2 linked regions of the Homo sapiens genome follow. The protein of the gene in region 2 purifies or fractionates together with the protein of the main gene of each other region. This does not show direct contact. Each region holds a gene or a part of one and is shown on either strand. Other genes may lie near its edges.

What was found. Proteins that work in one complex are often made in the same cells at the same time.
Region 1: the proteins of USP42 (region 2) and YTHDC2 purify together in Homo sapiens (affinity purification with mass spectrometry; one large-scale study listed by BioGRID and IntAct). This does not show direct contact.

The regions. Positions count from the first base shown.
Region 1 is NC_000005.10:113,586,694-113,590,193, reverse strand, and holds part of YTHDC2 (3'-5' RNA helicase YTHDC2), read right to left. Parts: intron 1-3,500. UniProt on the Homo sapiens protein: 3'-5' RNA helicase that plays a key role in the male and female germline by promoting transition from mitotic to meiotic divisions in stem cells.
Region 2 is NC_000007.14:6,153,224-6,157,083, forward strand, and holds part of USP42 (ubiquitin carboxyl-terminal hydrolase 42), read left to right. Parts: exon of another isoform or gene 1-440; intron 441-532; coding exon 533-1,972; intron 1,973-3,530; coding exon 3,531-3,832; coding exon of another isoform or gene 3,833-3,860. UniProt on the Homo sapiens protein: Deubiquitinating enzyme which may play an important role during spermatogenesis.

The DNA of each region.
Region 1 (3,500 bases), on a different chromosome or scaffold from region 2:
GGAATATACAAAAACCTAGCTGCCCAACAAAATTATAAGAAACACAAAGAATATACAAAGGTTGTTATTTACATAATTAAGGCTGAAGAGAAGTTAAATACTGTTGTCATCTTGAGACTCTGATTGCAATGAGCAATCAGACACATTTACAAGTAGATTTTTACTAGCTCTTTACAAATCTGAACCCGTTTCTCATGTGCATATGGAATATAAAATTTGTACTTGCATTTTCTCCACAGACAAAGCACTGGATAACAAGAAGACAAAACAGAAAGAAAAGTAAAAGAAAAAAATGCCAAAAGTAATAAACAGAAACAGTCTCAGAGATGACAGAGTTGATGTAATTAGGAGACAAGAATGTTAAAGCATCTGTTATAAATACATTCATTATGTCCAAGAAGGTAGAGGAAAACTTGAACATAATGAGAGGAGAAATGGAAGATATTATTAACTTTTTTTAGGGGGACAGGGTCTCACTCTGTCATACAGGCTGGAATGCAGTGGCACAATCACAGCTCACTATAAAATCAAATTCCTGGGTTCATGTGATCCTCCTGCCTCAGCCTCCCCAGTAGCTAGGAATACAGGTGGCCCATCACCATGCCCAACTAATTTTTTTATTCTTTTGTAGAGATGATAGGGTCTTCCTATGTTGCCCAGGTTGTTCTCAAACTCCTAGCCTCAAGCTATCATCCCAACCTGGCCTCCTAAACCACTGGGATTACAGACATAAACCACGCCGGGCCAGAAGATATATATACATATATATATATATATATATATATTTTTTTTTTTTTTAATTTTTAAAAGACTTGAACTTCTAGAGATGAAAATACTGCCTTTAAAAACACATTAGAAGGAAAGAACAGCAGATTAGACACTAAATAAAAACATCAGTGAACGTACAGACAAAACAGTAGAACTATCTGAAATGAAGACAGAAAAATGACTGAAAAAAATGAAGAGAACATCGGTGACCTGTGGAACCATATGAGATGGTCTTACATCTGTGTATCCAGAGTCCCAGAAAGGAGGTTCTTCAGGCAGAAGTAAATAATACAAAATGGACATTCGTATTAACATAAAAGTATAATGAGCACAAGATTAGTAATAATAAATGTAAAAATATATTTTTCTGACTTTGAAATCTTCATAAAGGTAACTGACTATGTAAAGTAAAAACAATACATTATAGCATTTATATAAAAACAAAATGTATGAAAACAATATAACATAAAGGAGTAAAGTGTAAAATAAAAGAACACTGTTGGCCAGGCATGGTGGCTCACGCGTGCAATCCCAGCACTTTGGGAGGCAGAGGTGAGCAGATCACTTGAGATCAGGAGTTCGAGACCAGCCTGGCCAACATGGTGAAACCCTGTCTCTACTGAAAAATACAAAAACTTAGCCAGGCATGGTGGCACATGCCTGTAATCCCAGCTACTCAGGAGGCTGAGGAAGGAAAATGGCGTGAACCCAGGAGGCTGAGCTTGTAGTGAGCCGAGATCGCGCCACTGCACTCCAGCCTGGGTGGCAGAGTGAGACTCTGTCTCAAAAAAAAATAATATAAATAAATAAATAAATAAATAAATAAATGGCTTCATAAGTGAATTCTATCAAATATTCAAGGAAGAAATAATACCAATTCTACACATCTCTTCTAAAATACTGAAGTGGGACAAACACTTCCCAACTAATCTTATGAGGCCGGCATTACTCTGACATCAAAACCATACAAAGATACATAAGAAAAAAGAACTACAGAATAATACCCCTCATGAACAAAGATCCCTCATTTAACAAAATTATATCCAGCAATATATAAAAATAACACCATGACCAAGTGGGGTATAAACATAAGAAAATCAAGCAATGAAATTCACCATACTAACAGACAAAAAATGCTTTCCCCCTAAGATCAAGGGAAAGATATGTGGCTCTCAACACTGAACAATATTTTGCTGGAGGCTCTGGCCAGAGAGATAAGGTAAAAAAGAAATAAACAGCAATCAGATTGAAAAGGAAAAGAGTAAAATTATCTTTATTATCAGAAGGCATAAAAAGCTAATAGAATTAATAAATGAAATAAGGTCATAGGATTCAGGGCAGATATACAAATATCAAATGTATTTGTATATACTAACAATGAATACCTGCAATTAAAATTCTAAAGAACAGTATCAAAAACATTAAATACTTAGGGAGAAATTTAACAAAAAATTGTAATACTTGTACTCTGAAATTTATAAAACATTGTTGAGAGAAATTAAAGACTATCCAAATAATGAACAGATATACTATGCTTATGGATTAGAAGACTAAGAAGTGTTAATTGTTGATTTTCTTTAAATTGATCTATAGATTCAATGCAATTCCACTCAAAATACCAAAAAATTTTTCTGCAGAAACTGATAAGCTGACTTTAAAGTTTATATGAAAGTACAAAGGACCTGGAACAGCCAAAATAATATTGAAGAAGATAAACAAAGTTGAAGGACAATTGATTGAAGGATTAACTGATTTCAAGACTTACTATAAAGCTACTAAAATAATGTCAGTGTACCACTGGCAAATATATATATAATAATATGTCATAAATATTAATTATATTAATATATAAATATACTATATATTATGTATGTACAATATATTAATATATAAATACATAATATATATTACATATAAATACATTATATATATTATATGAATACATAATATATATTTATATATTATATATGAATACATAATATATATTTATATATTATATATGAATACATAATATATATTTATATATTATATATGAATACATAATATATATTTATATATTATATATGAATACATAATATATATTTATATATTATATATGAATACATAATATATATTTATATATTATATATGAATACATAATATATATTTATATATTATATATGAATACATAATATATATTTATATATTATATATGAATACATAATATATATTTATATATTATATATGAATACATAATATATATTTATATATTATATATGAATACATAATATATATTTATATATTATATATGAATACATAATATATATTTATATATTATATATGAATACATAATATATATTTATATATTATATATGAATACATAATATATATTTATATATTATATATGAATACATAATATATATTTATATATTATATATGAATACATAATATATATTTATATATTATATATGAATACATAATATATATTTATATATTATATATGAATACATAATATATATTTATATATTATATATGAATACATAATATATATTTATATATTATATATATATATAGAGAGAGAGAGAGAGAGAGATATTAATGAAACTGAAGAGTCCAATAAGTAGACCACATATTTATGGCCAGTTGATTTTTGACAAAGGTGTCAGTGTAACTCAATGGAAAAAAACAAATGGTTTTAACAAACGGTACTGGAACAATTGTATAAGCAAAAGCCAACGAGTAATTCTTGACTC
Region 2 (3,860 bases):
GATCACACCACTGCGCTCCAGCCTGGGCAACAGAGTGGGACTCTGTCCTTCAAAAAAACAAAACAAAATGAAACAAAACAAAAAAAAAAAATAGAGGAATTGGAAGAACTAGAGGGATATCCAGAAACAGGAAGAGCCTAGAACTCTAGGATTATTGTTTTGAAAAATAGGCTAGGAGCTGGGCTTGATGATATAACATTTTATTTTTATTTAATAAGGGAAAGAGAAAATTGGGAGTTTCCAGAGATAGTAGTACTAGCCTAATATTGGGCTTCGGCGAGATGTATTTAAAGAGACGAAATAGCTGCTAAATGACGAGTTAATGGGTGCAGCACACCAGCATGGCACACGTATACATATGTAACTAACCTGCACATTGTGCACATGTAGCCTGAAACTTAAAGTATAATAATAATAAAATAAAGAGACGAAATAGCAAATGAACGTTTTGAAGTATTTGTCCTTGTAATGCAATGACATGAGCCTGTCAAGCCCACGCTAACGGGCGTGTTTGTTTGTTTGGGGGCTGCAGTGCACCTGGAGCAGAGAGGGGCCCTCCCGAGGACCGCGACGCCGAGCCTCAGCCTGGCAGCCCCGCCGCCGAATCCCTGGAGGAGCCAGATGCGGCCGCCGGCCTCAGCAGCACCAAGAAGGCTCCGCCGCCCCGCGATCCCGGCACCCCCGCTACCAAAGAAGGCGCCTGGGAGGCCATGGCCGTCGCCCCCGAGGAGCCTCCGCCCAGCGCCGGCGAGGACATCGTGGGGGACACAGCACCCCCTGACCTGTGTGATCCCGGGAGCTTAACAGGCGATGCGAGCCCGTTGTCCCAGGACGCAAAGGGGATGATCGCGGAGGGCCCGCGGGACTCGGCGTTGGCGGAAGCCCCGGAAGGGTTGAGTCCGGCTCCGCCTGCGCGGTCGGAGGAGCCCTGCGAGCAGCCACTCCTTGTTCACCCCAGCGGGGACCACGCCCGGGACGCTCAGGACCCATCCCAGAGCTTGGGCGCACCCGAGGCCGCAGAGCGGCCGCCAGCTCCTGTGCTGGACATGGCCCCGGCCGGTCACCCGGAAGGGGACGCTGAGCCTAGCCCCGGCGAGAGGGTCGAGGACGCCGCGGCGCCGAAAGCCCCAGGCCCTTCCCCAGCGAAGGAGAAAATCGGCAGCCTCAGAAAGGTGGACCGAGGCCACTACCGCAGCCGGAGAGAGCGCTCGTCCAGCGGGGAGCCCGCCAGAGAGAGCAGGAGCAAGACTGAGGGCCACCGTCACCGGCGGCGCCGCACCTGCCCCCGGGAGCGCGACCGCCAGGACCGCCACGCCCCGGAGCACCACCCCGGCCACGGCGACAGGCTCAGCCCTGGCGAGCGCCGCTCTCTGGGCAGGTGCAGTCACCACCACTCCCGACACCGGAGCGGGGTGGAGCTGGACTGGGTCAGACACCACTACACCGAGGGCGAGCGTGGCTGGGGCCGGGAGAAGTTCTACCCCGACAGGCCGCGCTGGGACAGGTGCCGGTACTACCATGACAGGTACGCCCTGTACGCTGCCCGGGACTGGAAGCCCTTCCACGGCGGCCGCGAGCACGAGCGGGCCGGGCTGCACGAGCGGCCGCACAAGGACCACAACCGGGGCCGTAGGGGCTGCGAGCCGGCCCGGGAGAGGGAGCGGCACCGCCCCAGCAGCCCCCGCGCAGGCGCGCCCCACGCCCTCGCCCCGCACCCCGACCGCTTCTCCCACGACAGAACTGCACTTGTAGCCGGAGACAACTGTAACCTCTCTGATCGGTTTCACGAACACGAAAATGGAAAGTCCCGGAAACGGAGACACGACAGTGTGGAGAACAGTGACAGTCATGTTGAAAAGAAAGCCCGGAGGAGCGAACAGAAGGATCCTCTAGAAGAGCCTAAAGCAAAGAAGCACAAAAAATCAAAGAAGAAAAAGAAATCCAAAGACAAACACCGAGACCGCGACTCCAGGTGAGCCTGGGGCCTTGTGCTCCCCGAGGCGCTGGCGCTGCTGTCAGCAGTGGGGCCTGTCCCTTCTCACTCGACTCAGGAACAAGTGACCAGCCAGGCCACAGTTGTATCCGTCTGATTTGTGTCTTTCATTTCTGTGGGTTTTGAGAGTTCACTATTTTTACAGATTTGTAAAAATTTGCCCTGCTTTGAAGCTGTATCTTTATTCTTCATGGTGTCGTTAAATGCCTAACAACCTTCTTTTTCAAAATGATAGTGCCATTTTTGGTGAATGCTTTATAACTCTTCCAGGAGTAAGCATGCAGTGTTCCATCAATGAACAATTGGGAGTCTTTGACCTTAGAATTGGTGTTAATATTCTTACTTGTCAGATGTAGTTATGTTTTCATATCTGTTATATTTTCCTGAAATTCAGTGGCTGTGAGGGAGGCAGACAACAGGAGGCACACTTTTCCTGTGCCTGCCCGCCTGCCCAGCGTAGGCATCGGAGACACCTTCGTTTCCTCGGCCTTTGTTTTTGTCTCCATTTTTCAACTTGAAATCCAATTGGGAAATTTGCTTCTGTATTTTTTAAGAGACAGGGTGTTGCTCTGTCACCCAGGCTGGAGTGCAGTGATGCCATCATAACTCACTGCAGCCTTGACCTCCTGGGCTCAAATGATATTTCTGCTTCAGCCCTCAGCCTCTGGAGTAGCCGGGACTGCAGGCGTGTGCTACCATCCTCAGCTAATTTTTTATTTTTGTAAAGACAGGATCTCACTATGCCGCGCACGCTGTTCTCAAACCCCTAGACTCAAGCGATCCCAAAGCACTGGGATCACAGGCATGAGCCACCTCACCTGGCCTGTTTTTGTATTTTTAAAAAGCTAAATTGGTTGGTGATTGTCTTGAAAATGACGTATCCATGATGAGATGGATGAGCAGGAGCAGAATTAGTAATTTTAGTTGACATCTCTTGAAACTGAAACCCTGGGAAAGATTACCAAAAGCCATATGGAAAATAGGCAGTGGTTATTGGAGGGAAAAATAATATTGCTGCCAGGTGTCTCAGGCACATGGGAGGGAAGGAGGCTTAGTATTTCCTTTCCCTTCAAGTAACTACTGGTTTCGGGAAAAGTTAGCAGAATCCTCCCTGCAGTGTTTGTCCAACAGCCTTAGTTCCTGAGAAAGCTGAAGCAGAGATGGGACTGTTCAGGATGGAGCTAAAGTTGGTGAATTTATGGCCCTGGACTGAAACAGTCATTACAGTGAAGGCAAACTTGTTAAATTTTTGAGACAGGGTCTTGCTCTGTTGCCCAGGCTGGAGTGCGGTGTTGCAGTCGTAGCTCACTGCAGCCTCAATCTCCTGGGCTCAAGTGATCCTCCTGCTTCAGCCTCCCGAGTAGCTGGGACTACAGGTGTGCGCCACCATACCTGGCCTACGTGGCTAATTAGATAAGAATTGTGCGTGTCTGCACAGTGAATGTTCTCGGTGAATGGGTGGAAAGGCCAAGCTCCAGGGTCTGCTGCTGGTGGTTTTGTGTTTTAGGGTTTTGAATTCTGGCTTTTCCTTCTGCAGGCATCAGCAGGACTCAGACCTCTCAGCAGCGTGCTCTGACGCTGACCTCCACAGACACAAAAAAAAGAAGAAGAAAAAGAAGAGACATTCAAGAAAATCAGAGGACTTTGTTAAAGATTCAGAACTGCACTTACCCAGGGTCACCAGCTTGGAGACTGTCGCCCAGTTCCGGAGAGCCCAGGGTGGCTTTCCTCTCTCTGGTGGCCCGCCTCTGGAAGGCGTCGGACCTTTCCGTGAGAAAACGAAACACTTACGGATGGAAAGCAGGGATGACAGGTGTCGTCTCTTTGAGTATGGCCAGGGTAAGAGGAGATACTTGGAATTAGGAAG